Homo sapiens: one gene and its partners. The protein of the gene in region 4 purifies or fractionates together with the protein of the main gene of each other region. This does not show direct contact. Each region holds a gene or a part of one and is shown on either strand. Other genes may lie near its edges.

What was found.
Region 1: the proteins of SUPT3H (region 4) and WDR37 purify together in Homo sapiens (affinity purification with mass spectrometry, with the first as the bait; one large-scale study listed by BioGRID). This does not show direct contact.
Region 2: the proteins of SUPT3H (region 4) and KAT14 purify together in Homo sapiens (affinity purification with mass spectrometry, with the first as the bait; one large-scale study listed by BioGRID). This does not show direct contact.
Region 3: the proteins of SUPT3H (region 4) and YEATS2 purify together in Homo sapiens (affinity purification with mass spectrometry, with the first as the bait; one large-scale study listed by BioGRID). This does not show direct contact.

What each region holds. Positions count from the first base shown.
Region 1 is NC_000010.11:1,104,647-1,108,384, forward strand, and holds part of WDR37 (WD repeat-containing protein 37), read left to right. Parts: intron 1-479; coding exon 480-621; intron 622-3,738. UniProt on the Homo sapiens protein: Required for normal ER Ca2+ handling in lymphocytes. Together with PACS1, it plays an essential role in stabilizing peripheral lymphocyte populations.
Region 2 is NC_000020.11:18,140,625-18,144,362, forward strand, and holds part of KAT14 (cysteine-rich protein 2-binding protein), read left to right. Parts: intron 1-1,583; coding exon of another isoform or gene 1,584-1,733; 5' UTR 1,734-2,036; coding exon 2,037-2,295; exon of another isoform or gene 2,296-2,545; intron 2,546-3,738. Other genes in the region: protein PET117 homolog, mitochondrial precursor, read left to right, coding at 1,584-1,733. UniProt on the Homo sapiens protein: Component of the ATAC complex, a complex with histone acetyltransferase activity on histones H3 and H4. May function as a scaffold for the ATAC complex to promote ATAC complex stability. Has also weak histone acetyltransferase activity toward histone H4.
Region 3 is NC_000003.12:183,753,059-183,756,796, reverse strand, and holds part of YEATS2 (YEATS domain-containing protein 2), read right to left. Parts: intron 2,675-3,738; coding exon of another isoform or gene 2,672-2,674; coding exon 2,432-2,671; intron 270-2,431; coding exon 108-269; intron 1-107. UniProt on the Homo sapiens protein: Chromatin reader component of the ATAC complex, a complex with histone acetyltransferase activity on histones H3 and H4. YEATS2 specifically recognizes and binds histone H3 crotonylated at 'Lys-27' (H3K27cr).
Region 4 is NC_000006.12:44,826,006-44,829,169, reverse strand, and holds the end of SUPT3H (transcription initiation protein SPT3 homolog), read left to right. Parts: 3' UTR 1-2,444; downstream 2,445-3,164.

The sequences.
Region 1 (3,738 bases), on a different chromosome or scaffold from region 4:
AAGGGAAGGGTGTTAGGCATGTACGGGGTGGGGGTGGCTTGGGGCCATCTTGGGATGCTGCCTGCTGAAGTTGCTTCTGCGAATCTATCTCTAAGTGCATTTCCTGCATGAGCGTTAAAGATTGTATTTGACTGAGGACCCATAGCGTTGTATCATTAGAAGGTATTCTAAGCAAAGAATCAAGATTTAAGTGGTTCTCACATTCAACCTGTTAATTTGCCTGACCTTCTAACTGGTAGGGTCAGAAAATGGGTTATGCACCTGTTTGGTTTTCTGTTCCTTTGACATGGACGGCTGAAAGGACTTCAGCTTCTGAGGGAAAACCTGCCCCACTGTGACCCACATGCTGCTGAGTGATTCCATTAGGTCAGGTTCACAGTCTCAGAGAGACGGCTTCTTGGGTTCTTGTGCTGTTGAAAAGCGTCTCTCTCAGCGTGCTCCTCAGGTGATGACCTTGTGTTTTGCCATCTTGGTTACAGGGCACGACCAGGAGTTGACGCACTGCTGCACACACCCCACCCAGCGGCTCGTGGTGACCTCCTCCCGTGACACGACTTTCCGCCTCTGGGATTTCAGGGACCCCTCCATCCACTCGGTGAATGTTTTCCAGGGACACACGGAGTGAGTTGCGGTAGTTTAGACATCTGTCCTTAGTCATGAAAAAGTTCTGTGGGTTGACATGAAAACTTAATTCTAGCCTTAATTTTCAGTATTTCCGACTCTACTATCTTTCAAAAAAATAACTACCTTTCAAATTCTGCTATTCTTTTTCTAAACATTTAGCTCCATTTTGGCTATTTCAAAGGATGTAGGAGATTAAGAGAAGGCACCCTCCGAAGTTCTCTCAAGAAGTTTAATGCAGACAGAATGGGGGAGTGGGTGGAGAGGGTTAGAGAAGAGCAGGGCTGCCAGAGCCTGTAGCTGAGCACAGGGGCCGGCCACGCCACCATAGGAGCCGCGGGAGCTGTTACTCCTACCCACGGGGTGTCTCCTGGATCTTTTCCATCTAGTTTTTGTTATTACACGTGTCTGCGTGGTATATTCTGGGAGAAGGTATACACATAGACGCGCAAACACAGACATAGACCCTCAATCCAGTGTGTCCCTCTCTGCTTGGGTTTCTCTCCGGCAACTCAAGTGTAAGGTCTTTTTTTTCTGAGACGGAGTCTCGCTCTGTCGCCCAGGCTGGAGTGCAGTGGCGCTATCTCGGCTCACTGCAAGCTCCGCCTCCCGGGTTCACGCCATTCTCCTGCCTCAGCCTCCCGAGTAGCTGGGACTAGAGGCACCTGCCACCACGCCTGGCTAGTTTTTTGTATTTTTAGTAGAGATGGGGTTTCACCGTGATAGCCAGGATGGTCTCGATCTCCTGACGTCGTGATCCGCCTGTCTCGGCCTCCCAAAGTGCTGGGATTACAGGCGTGAGCCACCGCGCCCAGCCGTGTAAGGTCTTAACAGAACTCTTCAGTTCTTTCCGTGACCGTCTCCTTCCCCCAGTCTGGCCCTGCTCAGTCAATGATGAGACCGTCTGCCCAGTCACGGGGGCTGTCTACCTAGAGTGTTCCCTGGTTCTTCTCTTTTAATCTCTGTTCCCCGTTCCCCCATCATGCCCCACTGTGGTCCACTGGCAAGTCTCCTGCCAGCCATGCCTGTGGGATCTTCCCGGCCGCTCCTCGCTCCTCCATGCTCCCCCTACCTCCCACCAGTGCTGCTCTCCACCCCGACGTCTGGATAAGCAGTGTGCATTGAAAGGTTTATAAATGAACTCCAAATATGAAAATCTGTTTTATATGTTTAACGTTAGTTACTAAGTTTTAGATTTAATGTTCAAAATGTTAGTAAGATGTTGGAAAGGAAAATAGGACTTTTTGTTTGTTTGTTTGTTTGTTAATAGACGGAGTCTCTTTCTGTCGCCCGGGCTGGAGTGCAGTGGTATGATCTCGGCTCACTGCAGCCTCTGCCTCCCGGGTTCAAGCGATTCTCCTGCCTCAGCCTCCCTAGTAGCTGGGATTACAGGCGCCCACCACCATGCCTGGTTAATTTTTGTATTTTTAGTAGAGGTGGGGTTTCACCATGTTGGTTGGGCTGGTCTTGAACTCCTAACCTCAGGTGATCCGCCTGCCTCAGCCTACCAAAGTGCTGGGATTATAGGTGTGAGCCATCGCGTCTGGCCAGGACAACGTTTTTAAAAAGAAGCTTGAGATTGGAAAGCTAATTCCTTGACTCTGAGGCTGGAACGGGAGCAGGCAGCAGTCACGACCATGCGTAGAGATCTTTATGGCAGCCTGGGTCTGTTCTGGGGGCATCACACGCATTAAACTGCTCCGTCCTGACATCAGGTCAGCGTTTATTCTGCCAGCTCCGTCAGCGATAGCCATAGTAATACAGACCTCCCGGTGGTCAGTGGCTGAACGCAGCACTGTGTTGTTGCTGCATCAGGGTGCAGCAGGCGCTGAGCTGGGCCCCCATGAGCTCCGCCACATGGGCCTGACCCCGCTGCAGGCCAGCTCATTGGTGAGGAAGATGCTGCAGCTCGGGGAGCGCTGCTTCCCATGCATGTTAGCTTGGATGTGGTGCTCCCCGACGTCCACCAGATGCAGAGGGGCCCCACAGCAAAGCCCTGGCTGGACCTGGGCCCACCACCTGGCACCACTGTGTAGGGCGGGGCAGAGGGGCCCGCATGACTGCCCTGCTGTTTCTCATGAGAATTCATTGGAAGGGCAGTCGGAGGCCTAGAGGACGGGAGGAGCAAGATGGTCTCACTCCTGCGCCTGCAGTGCTTTCCTAAGCTTTTTGCTTAGAAAAGTTTCAAGCCTACATAAAAACCAACAGAGTAGTACAGTGTACCCACAAACCCTTCACCTAGGTTCGCCTGTTGTATTGCAGCACTGCTGTCTCTTTACACATGTGTACACACCTCTCTCTGAAACACACGCCCACTAACCCTTCACCTAGGTTCACCTGTTGTATTGCAGCACCGCTGTCTCTTTACACATGTGTACACACCTCTCTCTGAAACACACGCCCACTAACCCTTCACCTAGGTTCACCTGTTGTATTGCGGCACTGCTGTCTCTCTTTACACATGTGTACACACCACTGTCTGTAACACACAACACGCACTACCCTGTCACCTAGGTTCGCCTGTTGTATTGCAGCACTGCTGTCTCTCTTTACACATGTGTACACGCCTCTCTCTGAAACACACGCCCACTTCCCCTTCACCTAGGTTTGCCTGTTGTTGTATTGCAGCACTGCTGTCTCTATTTACACATGTGTACACACCTGTCTGTAACAGACACGCCCACTTATCCTTCACCTAGGTTCACCTGTTGTTGTATTGCAGCACTGCTGTCTCTGTAGATGTGTACACACCTCTGTCTATAACACACACTTGTATATTTTCTTTGGCTGAGCCCTTTGAAAGGAAAACTCCAGCATGCATTTTCTAAGAATAAGGATGTTCTCCTAATACAGTACCATTGTTCAAATAAGAAAATTAGTAAAAATTCTATGGCATCCTTTATCTGGTCCACATTTAAATTTACTCAGTTCTCCCCAAAATGTCTTTGATACTTTTTTTAGAGCTAGGATTTAATCAGGATTCTCTCATCACATTTAGATATTATGTCCTTTGGCTTCTTTTAATCTAGAATGGTCCTTCCCCCATTTTTTGTTACTTTTTAGGATATTGAGTTTTTTGGTGAAGAATCCAAGCCTGCTCTTTTGCAGAACGCCCCT
Region 2 (3,738 bases), on a different chromosome or scaffold from region 4:
CGTGGTGAAACCCCGTCTCTACTAAAAATACAAAAAAATTAGCCAGGCCTGGTGGCGCACGCCTGTAATCTCAGCTACTGGGGAGGCTGAGGCACAAGAATCGCTTTAACTCAGAAGGTGGAGATTGCAGTGAGCTAAGATCGTGCCATGGAGCCAAGATCTCCAGCCTGGGTGACAGAACGAGACTCCTTCTCAAAAAAAAAAAAAAAAAACCAATAAAACAAAACAAAAAAAACCCTATTTATTTATTTTGAGATGGGGCTTGTTCTGTCACCCAGGTGGGAGTGAAGTGGCACAATCTTAGCTCACTGCAGCCTGTGCCTCCCAGGCTGAGGTGATCCTATCACCTCAGCCTCCGGAGTAGCTGGGAACACAGGCACACACCACCACTCCCTGCAATTTTTTTTTTTTTTTTTTTTTTTATTTTTATTTTTGCTAGAGATGGGATTTTGCCATGTTGCCCAGGCTGGTCTAGAACTTCTGAGCTCAAGCAGTCTGCCTGCCTTGGCCTAAGATTACAGGAGTGCTGGGATTACAGGAGTGAGCCACCACGCCTGGCCTAAAACCTTTAGAGTATTTTGTGAGCAATAAACTATAAAATGTTAGTTATTAGTAATGACTGATGTTTTTAAAAGTCTCTTCTTGGGTGCCAGGTCCACGTTCTGAAGTGCTGTGGTTTTTTAGTGCTTACTAAGGTAACTACCATTGATGAGCATTTATTTTTTCCGCTGGTAGTAGCATCCTTCTTTTTCTTCTTTCTCTGTTATATAATTAATTAATAATTCTGCATGATTTTTACATTGTTAACTTTACATGCTAGAAGCCAAGTTGAGATTTTAGTAATCTGCATTTTTTCTGTTGGTGTTTATTGTTCAGCTAGGATAAGTGCTAACAGAAGAGTAGTTTAGAGTGTTACTGTAGTAACTCGCCAAGTTTTTAAAGCATTACATATCAATTAAACTTTAAAAATTTAACATTGGCCGGGTGCAGTGGCTCACGCCTGTAATCCGGCACTTTGGGAGGCTGAGGCAGGTGGATTACTTGAGATCAGGAGTTCGAGACCAGCTTGGCTGACGTGGTGAAACCCCGTCTCTACTAAAAATACAAAAATTAGCTGGGCATGGTGATGCACGCCTGTAGTCTCAGCTACTCGGGAGGCTGAGGCCGGAGAATCACTTGAACCCAGGAGGTGGAGGTTGCGGTGAGCTGCGGAGTGCAGCCACTGCACTCCAGCCTGGGCGACAGAGCGAGACTCTTGTCTCAAAAAATAAATAAAAAAAAATTTAACATAGTGCCAGTTTTTTTTTTCTGTTATTTCCCATTAAATTTTCTGTACTAAATGTTCAGGAATTTCTTAAAATATGATAAGAAATCATTTCAGTAATAACATTTAGCACACTACCAAATTTATTTGATCGTTTATTACATTTTACATTTGTACAGAAAATTAAAATAGTAACTGGGTATTTGGAATCTGAAAGTTTTAAGTATATTTTGGTAACACTGTTATTTGGATTTGAATGGCACAAGGATGGGGACCACCTGTTCGGGATGTTACTGAAATCTGTTTCTTACGTTTTTAGAGGCTTCGTGACGGAGTTATCAGAGACATTGAGAGGCAAATTCGGAAAAAAGAAAACATTCGTCTTTTGGGAGAACAGATTATTTTGACTGAGCAACTTGAAGCAGAAAGAGAGAAGATGTTATTGGCAAAAGGATCTCAAAAATCATGACTTGAATGTGAAATATCTGTTGGACAGACAACACGAGTTTGTGTGTGTGTGTTGATGGAGAGTAGCTTAGTAGTATCTTCATCTTTTTTTTTGGTCACTGTCCTTTTAAACTTGATCAAATAAAGGACAGTGGGTCATATAAGTTACTGCTTTCAGGGTCCCTTATATCTGAATAAAGGAGTGTGGGCAGACACTTTTTGGAAGAGTCTGTCTGGGTGATCCTGGTAGAAGCCCCATTAGGGTCACTGTCCAGTGCTTAGGGTTGTTACTGAGAAGCACTGCCGAGCTTGTGAGAAGGAAGGGATGGATAGTAGCATCCACCTGAGTAGTCTGATCAGTCGGCATGATGACGAAGCCACGAGAACATCGACCTCAGAAGGACTGGAGGAAGGTGAAGTGGAGGGAGAGACGCTCCTGATCGTCGAATCCGAGGATCAGGCATCAGTGGACTTATCGCACGACCAGAGTGGGGATTCCCTCAACAGTGATGAAGGAGACGTGTCTTGGATGGAGGAGCAGCTGTCCTACTTCTGTGACAAGTGCCAAAAATGGATACCAGCCAGTAAGGAGCTTCTCAATTCCTTTGATTTGTCAATTCCTGTGTGAAGGTTTGTTTTTCCAACCTGTGAAAGAAACGTGAATGTAAAAGAGACCTAAATAAAAGGATAATTATATTTATTCTCTAGTTGATCAGCTATAAATTTATATAAAACATAGGCATGTTTGTACTAATGAAACGTACTGTCAACCTCTATCACATTGTTAAATTAACACTTTTGGTGGTAACTCAATAAAATTGAGAAAATTGGAAATCCTGTGTTACTTAAAGAATTAGCCATATTTTTCTAACAAGGTCACAGAGATTTAGGGCCAAATTCCAGTCCCAGTGTTGAATTCATGTTCAAGTTTATAAAAATTACTTTGTTAATATTTAACTTACGTGGAGAACTCCTGCTATTGTATACTGAAAAGAGGTTAGAATTAGCAGATTGAAGGTGTTTTTTGCCCTTTTTCTAGGACCAGTCTTTTTTTCCATTTTCCTTTTTTTCTGCTGGCAAGAGATACCTCATACACACTCCCTGATTGCCTCAATCTTGAGATTTTCTTTTCTTTCTTTTTTTTTTTTGAGATGGAGTTTTGCTTTTGTTGCCCAGGCTAGAGTGCAATGGCATGATCTCGGCTCCTGGGTTCAAGCGATTCTCCTGCCTCAGCCTCCCAAGTAGCTGGGATTATAGTGTTTGCCAGCACACCTGGCTAATTTTTTTTTTTATTTTATTTTTTTTTTTTGAGACGGAGTTTTCCTCTTATTGCCCAGGCTGGAGTGCAATGGCATGATCTTGGCTCACTGCAACCTCCGTCTCCCAGGTTCAAGTGATTCTCCTGCCTCGGCCTCCCGAGTAGCTGGGATTACAGGCATGCGCCACCATGCCCGGCCAATTTTGTATTTTTAGTAGAGATGAGGTTTCTTCTCCATGTTGGTCAGGCTGGTCTCAAACTCCCAACCTCAGGTGATCCATCCGCCTCGGCCTCCCAAAGTGCTGGGATTACAGGCATGTGCTACTGTGCTCGGCCCTGATCTTGAGATTTTCAATGGCCAGCTTCCTGGCACCTGAGGAGTATGGCTTGCCAGCCATCATATGGTTTATACCGAAACAGGATTTTCCCATTAGGCAAGAGACTAGTAAAGATATAGGTACTTGAGGAATGCCTTTGTGTAATATAATTTGTAACCAAGTCAGAGAAATACATATATAACTGTGAAGAGGGTCATTTTCTGGCATGTGGAAATGTTTTTCTTAAAATGGGTTCAACTTCAAATTTAGTCACTGTTAACAAATTAATAGTAACATTTTCACAGGAAATGCAGAATTTACTAGTTAGCTGGTTTTTGCTTCTGAGCGGTCTCTGTTATTGATTTCAGGTTCTGCCTGAATTCTCAGTGGCTTTCCCTTTGTCCTGTTGAGGACAAATTTTAAGCTACCCTTTGTGGTCAGGACCCTGCTAA
Region 3 (3,738 bases), on a different chromosome or scaffold from region 4:
ACGGGAGATTTCATTCTCCAATTACATGGCTACCAAGTCATGGCAGGATTACATTTTTAATAAAGATCAAACCCTTTAGATGGTACAAATATGGATCTAATACACACCTGTACTGGGAGTGGTGGCTCCAATCACCTGCCCCGGCTGCTTGTCCATGATAACATAAGGATTATTAATAACAGAGCCGGCAGTGCCTTGCTTCACGTGGACTGGAGTGGAAGTCGGGGTTCGAGGCAATGGTGATGGGCTTGGAGTTGATATTGGGGAACCTTATTAATTAAAAAGAGAGAATACAAACAAAATACACATATTCAACTCACGTAAGAAGATGTCGAGGACAAGGAAGAAGGTCAGTGCCACCAGGACAAAGGTAACAAATTGGGAAAATAAAATGGATACTGCGTGCTCCCGGTACTGAGCAGCAACAGAGGTACAAAGGAGGCAGAGGATGTATGTTTCATGCTCTGCATCCTTATCCATGGATCAACAGCATCAGTATCATCGAGGAAATTGTAAGAAACAGATTTTATGGTCCCATCCTTGACCTACTAAACATAAATCTCACTTCAACAAGATCTCCTGGTATGCACCTTATAGTTCAGAAAGCAGTGCTTTACACAGCAGTGCAAAACTGCTGAACCTTTTTTTGTAACTGCTGAATCTTGATATGATAAATCTTTTAACACCATAGGCAGGCTTTTATAGTACTGGTTATACTCGAAGACACTAAAATTAGAGACCGGGCATGAGACACCAGGTGCAGTGGCTCGTGCCTGTAATCCCAGCACTTTGGGAGGCCGAGGCAGGCGGATCACCTGAGGTTGTGAGTTCGAGACCAGCCTGACCAACATGGAGAAACCCTGTCTCTACTAAAAATACAAAATTAGCTGGGTGTGGTGGCGCATGCCTGTAATCCCAGCTCCTCGAGAGGCTGAGGCAGGAGAATCGCTTGAACCCGGGTGGCGGAGTGAGCCGAGATCGTGCCATTGCACTCCAGCCTGGGCAACAAGAGCAAAACTCTGTCTCAAAAAAAAAAAAAAAAAAAAAAAAAAAAAGAAAGGAAGGAAGAAAATCAGTAAGTAAACAGCTAGATTTAAGAACCTGGTGTCTTGTTTTGAATAGGAAAATATGAAATTCACCTACCCAGAATAAAAGTCTCTGTCAATACTATGTCACAGCCGTAACCCAGAAAGATTCGTGTTCCCGCAAAATACTCTCAAAAGTTACTGACAGTTAAACATCCTCTACTGTCTTTTATTGATCAAACGTCATCCATGAATTTCTTTAAACTTCAAATCAATTTATATGTTCAGCCTATTCCACCTCTGAAGTAGCAAGTTCCAAAATTTTTCTACCTGGTAGGTAAAATTGCCTACCAATGACAGGGGACGGTGGCTCACGCCTGTAACCGGAGCACTTTGGGAGGCCAAGGTAGGTGGATCACCTGAGGTCAGGAGTTCAAGACCAGCCTGGCCAATATGGTGAAACTCCGTCTCTACTAAAAATACAAAATTAGCTGGGAGTGGTGACACGTGCCTGCAGTCCCAGCTACTTGGGAGGCTGAGCCAGGAGAATCACTTGAACCCGAGAGAGGTGGAGGCTGCAGTGAGCTGAGATCGCGCCATTGCACTCCAGCGTAGGTGACAAGAGTGAAACTCCATCTCAAAAAAAAAAAATTGCCTACCAATTAGAAGCTATTTATCTCTCATCAAAGATTTGGATCCTATTTCTACTTAGCTGTCTACTTACAACACCAAACATTCTTTTTTTCCCCCCTTCATTTAACTATTATACAGAAGTCCTCATACTTCCTGGTTATTTCCAATTGCCTTTTAACAAACATGTTTTGTTCTAAGGTGGAACAGTCAAAACCATATATTCCTACTAAATTTTACCTAACATAAAATGAAACTATCACAAGGCAAAAGATAATCCAATCTTAGTGAACAAGACAACTCAGAACTACCTACTGACAATAGGAATGAATAATTTTCTAGTGTGGTTACAGACAGAATAAAGCATTTCAATTCCCAACCAACTCTAACCCTTAAAATTTAACTCCATGCCAAAGGCCTCTAAATTTTTTCTATCACTAGTCACTGTGGTTTCCATGTATATAATCCCCAAACACGATTCCTACACCTTAGTTTCAGCCATATATCCTAGCAAACATTTTACCTGTGCTGATTCTGGCAGACAAAAATTTGACCATTTGAGTTTCATTTATCTCCTCCATTCATTTCCGTATGAATGAGCTTTGTTTTTGCCTTGTGACAGCTTTGCCAATCAACAGTGATAAACTTCCTTTTGTTAAACATAACACTGCTTAGAAGAACTTAAGAGAAAAAAAGCCAAGTATTTTGTTTTGTTGTTCCAACAATTTTAACATCCAGTCAACTCCACATACACTGTCTTCAAAACATCTGCATACCTGACACAATCTTGCAGCTCATGGTGATGGGCTGGAAGGATTTTCCAGGTGACTCAGGATTAGGAACCTGACTTTGTGGAACAATTTTGCAGCTTGATGCTATTGGCTGGAAAGCTGAATTGCCATGGGAACAAAAGGTAACTTTCTGGGATGTAGTCATTTTGGTGGGTGTTCTTTCCAATGAAGATGGCAAAGCATAAAACGGAGTGTGTCGTTCAGCTTCAGTGCTAGCTGGGAATCCTGCTTGAGATGAAAGAGGCAAACGGCAAGTCATCAATCGCTTTGAAATAAAACCTTACCGTTGTGGAAAAAGAATAAAAATGCATTATTTCAACACCATTTTAAACCATGTACTGGTAGCAAAATAAATACAATCAATCATCCCTTCATATTTTTGGTGAAAAATATATATGCTTAGAATAATGTTTAAAGTGCTTTTTTAAAAAAACTTGAAAACATTATTAACTATAAACCATGTATAACATAAAAAGAACAAAAGTTCTTATGTTCCTCCATTTTTTAATATATAAACTGAAAAACTGTTTAGAGAAGAAAAAATCTTAGAAAGCATTCACTAAATCTAATGATATCCTCCTATCTTATTTATTTACTTATTTTTGAGACATTATTTCACTTGTCACCCAGGCTAGAGTGCAGTGGTGTGATCTCAGCTCACTGCTACCTCCACCTCCCGGGTTCAAGCAATTCTTGTGCCTCAGCCTCCGGAATAGCTGGGATTACAGGTATGCACCACCATCCCTGGCTAATTTTTGTATTTTTAGTAGAGACGGGGTTTTGCCATGTTGGCCAGGCTGGTCTTGAACTCCTGACCTCAGGTGATCCGATGGTTTCAGCCTCCCAAAAGGCTGGGAATTACAGGCATGAGCCACCGTGCCCGGCCCCTCTTGTATCTTATTAAATGCCCATAAAAAAGATGCAATTGAAATCTAAAGAGGAATAAAGTTGAGATTTTATAAAAGAACTATAATACTAACCACATTAAAATATAGGCTTAGAAATAAAACATTTAAGATCAATTTTATATCTTTTATGCTTATATATGGGAACATTAAAATATGTATTTATACACATATATTTGTTAAATTTAAAAATGGCATGGTCAAAATACATTGTTGGTGATGAATCTTTTCTTAAGTAAAACCAGGTATTTAATATCCAAGTTTCTTGCTCGCACAATCAGAAGCTGAACCATAAAGTCTTCCTGTAATACATTATAAGGAATTATCAAGTGATAAAAATCTGTTTTAGGCCAGGCGTGGTGGGTCATGCCTGTAATCCCAGCACTT
Region 4 (3,164 bases):
CTTCCTCCATCTTCATTTCCCTCCTTTTCCTGTTCCTCCAATCCCCAGATCCACCACTCCTGCACATGCCATACACATTTAGAAGCCAAGTATTCAGAATCAGTAGAAGGGGAGCAGAGTGATTTCTTGCTTCCTCCCTTCAAAGCACTACCACACCTAGACTGGAAATGTGGGCTGGGTAATTTCTTGCTGTTAGCAGCCGAGCTACCCTTCTGGCATCTATACTTTCTCCAGTAAATGAGGAACCGTAACTCTTTGGAACAAACCAAAATATAGCAGATGTAATTGTACAGTTCCTGATTAAACTTCAGTTGCAAAAAAGAAAGTTATTTCTTTAATTCTGTGGGAGTTTTGTATAATTTTACTTTTATGGTTTTTACACATACTTGAAACACTCTTTCTAAAGAATTAATAAAAACAGAAATGAGAAACATGAAAGATCTTTTTCTTGATACTGCTCCTTTTTCTTGATACTGCTCAAGAGAGCAAGCCTCTCTTGATACTGCTTCCTAGATTTAAGGGTAAAGAAAGTAGAAATAGTTCTCCCTTCACCCAAATTTGGAAGTATAAAACTTTCTGAACATGCCATTTAGAGGTTATGTCATTAGCTTTCCTGCCTTCTTATATTGTAATAGTTGCGATTCAAAAACACTGTTTCAATTTTAAATTCAAGACTTTTTATTTGAAAACCATCAGACTCAAAGAATTATGAGGCTCAGTTAATATTATTATGCCACATTATTTACATTTGTTAACTGTCATTTACCTGCTCTATGTTAATCTTTTTAGAAAAAATTTGCATTTCAGAAACAAAAAGCACGGATAGATATATAATATCAAAATATTCCCAAAGGATTTTGATGTTCCATCTATGCTTGTTAAAATGTATGATTATGATTAAACTTTTTATCATTCTTATTTTCCTTGGCATCCATAATCATGGAAAATTACAAGCTTGCAGTAAACATCCTAACTTAACTTAACTTTTAAACGATAGCATTTATTGTATTTGGTTTTGATCTGCCAGGCTTATAGATGGTATAAAATTTTCAGGGGATAATTTTTCACATCAAAATTCCTTCTCTCCCACATTATACATTTTAAAGTATGCACAAGGCAGAAAATATAGGGTTTGGGTTTTTTTCCTTCGTTTTATTCCACCTGATCTCCTTATAGTCCCAGAGAAGGAAGACTCAATGTACATTTCTCTCAGAAATATGACAGGTCTGTGTTTTTGTTGGTCTGGCATATGTTTGTCTATCTTGAACAGTCTGACAGGTAATTATTTATAAAATCTGGTTTTGCCCAGTAAGTTCATATAAAACCTTTCATTTTTCATCATAAGCCAGTAAGCTGAATTTAGAATAAAGCAAGGTCATTTATGTCTGTCCTGAACCAGCCTACATGTCCCCATAATTGCTCAATATTTTTAATTCCCTTTTCTATTTTTTATACTTAGGTTCTTTCTCTGACTCTTTGCACAATACTAAATTTGAAGTGAAATAAAACTTCCTTCAGCAGTGACTATAGAAACAAAAGAAAATTTACAGAAGGAATGTTTAAGAAAACTTCAGTAAATTATTTTCTCAATAATCATAATGTTAGAGCAGAAGATAGTCTTAGAGATCATTAAGAACAGCTGCTCATCTTGCAAATGAAAAAACCATGGCCTAGAGAGGGAAAGTGAGTTTCCTAAGATCACTCAATAATGTAGTGACAGACCAGAGATGAGAATCGATGGTCCCTAATTTTCAGTCGGTATTATACAGTATTTTCTACCATACTGGGTTAGCATAAGAATATTACTAAGACATGTTGGGGTTTTATGGCATATTTATCCTAGACAACGATGTAAATTTATTTAAAAACTGTACTAATTATGGATACATCCTAAAGCATACGTGTTATATAGTAAAATCTTCAGTGTGACTGTGGTATTAAGTAAACAGTCTGTTATCTTACACATCAGGCTTAACTCTAAGTCAAATGGAAATATACAAAGCTAGTTTCTATTTTTTGTCCCTTGTATTTTAGAGACTGAATTTGAAAATAAATAAGCCAATAAATAAATAGCGTCTCTTGATACTGCTTCCTAGATTTAAGGGTAAAGAAAGTAGAAATATTTCTCCCTTCACCTAAATTTGGAAGTATAACTTTCTGAACGTGCCATTTAGAGGGTTATGCCATTAGCTTTCCTGCCTTCTTAGATTGTAATCGTTGTGATTCAAAAATACTGTTTCAATTTTAAAACCAAGACTTTTTATTTGAAAACCATCAGAAGCACAAATATTTTTTAAATGGTGTATATAATTCCTGTATCTGGGGAGAACCCTTCATTTATTGCTGTTCTTTGTTTTTATAAAATAATAAACAAGCCATGTCTGATGCTTTTACCATGTAGAAGACAAATAAACATAACTGGTGATTCTTGGTCTGAAAGAAAACATGTTTACTTGTTTAGAATTAATTATAAAGTTTAATTTTATGAATTTTTTTACGTAGTTCTCAAATCAGGCAATGCTTTCCAGTTCATATAACCTCTTGTGTAAAACTGAATCACTAAAGAGAACATATTCTCTCATCTGCCCCCCTGGAATTTGGATAGAACCTTTCCAGGCTACATTTAAAATTCTACCATCAACCATGTATACATCTCATAAAATATTTTACAGTTTCCTGTATGCTCTGGCCGAACATTTCATAGTACATAAACACTCTGCAAATAATCTAAGGGCATCAAGTTGAATATGTCATAGCAGTGGCCACTACAAAGAGCTAATTCTCCAGCAACACAGTTTCTTATTTTTACCTTCTTATTTGAAACTCAAGATGAAACTTTACATGCTATTGTTGTACAGTGGCAGGGGTGAGAAGAGAGCAGGGAACTCTAGCAGTTTTTGTGGAATTGTGTTCATTAAAGCAAAGGCTTTCTGCAGAGGGCATCTAGCCAAGCTTAAACAACAAAACTTTGCCTGCAGGAATTGGATGTAAATGTGATGGTTAAATAAGGGCCAGATGTCGTTAAAAACTCAAATATTAGAAAGTCGTATCTCTTAAAGAAAGTCTCAAATGTTGTAAGTCGGATACTGATACCATGATACCTAAAGAAAGAGACGAGACTTGCATTTGTTTTCCAGAGCAAGATAGATAGTAAATAGTCAAGC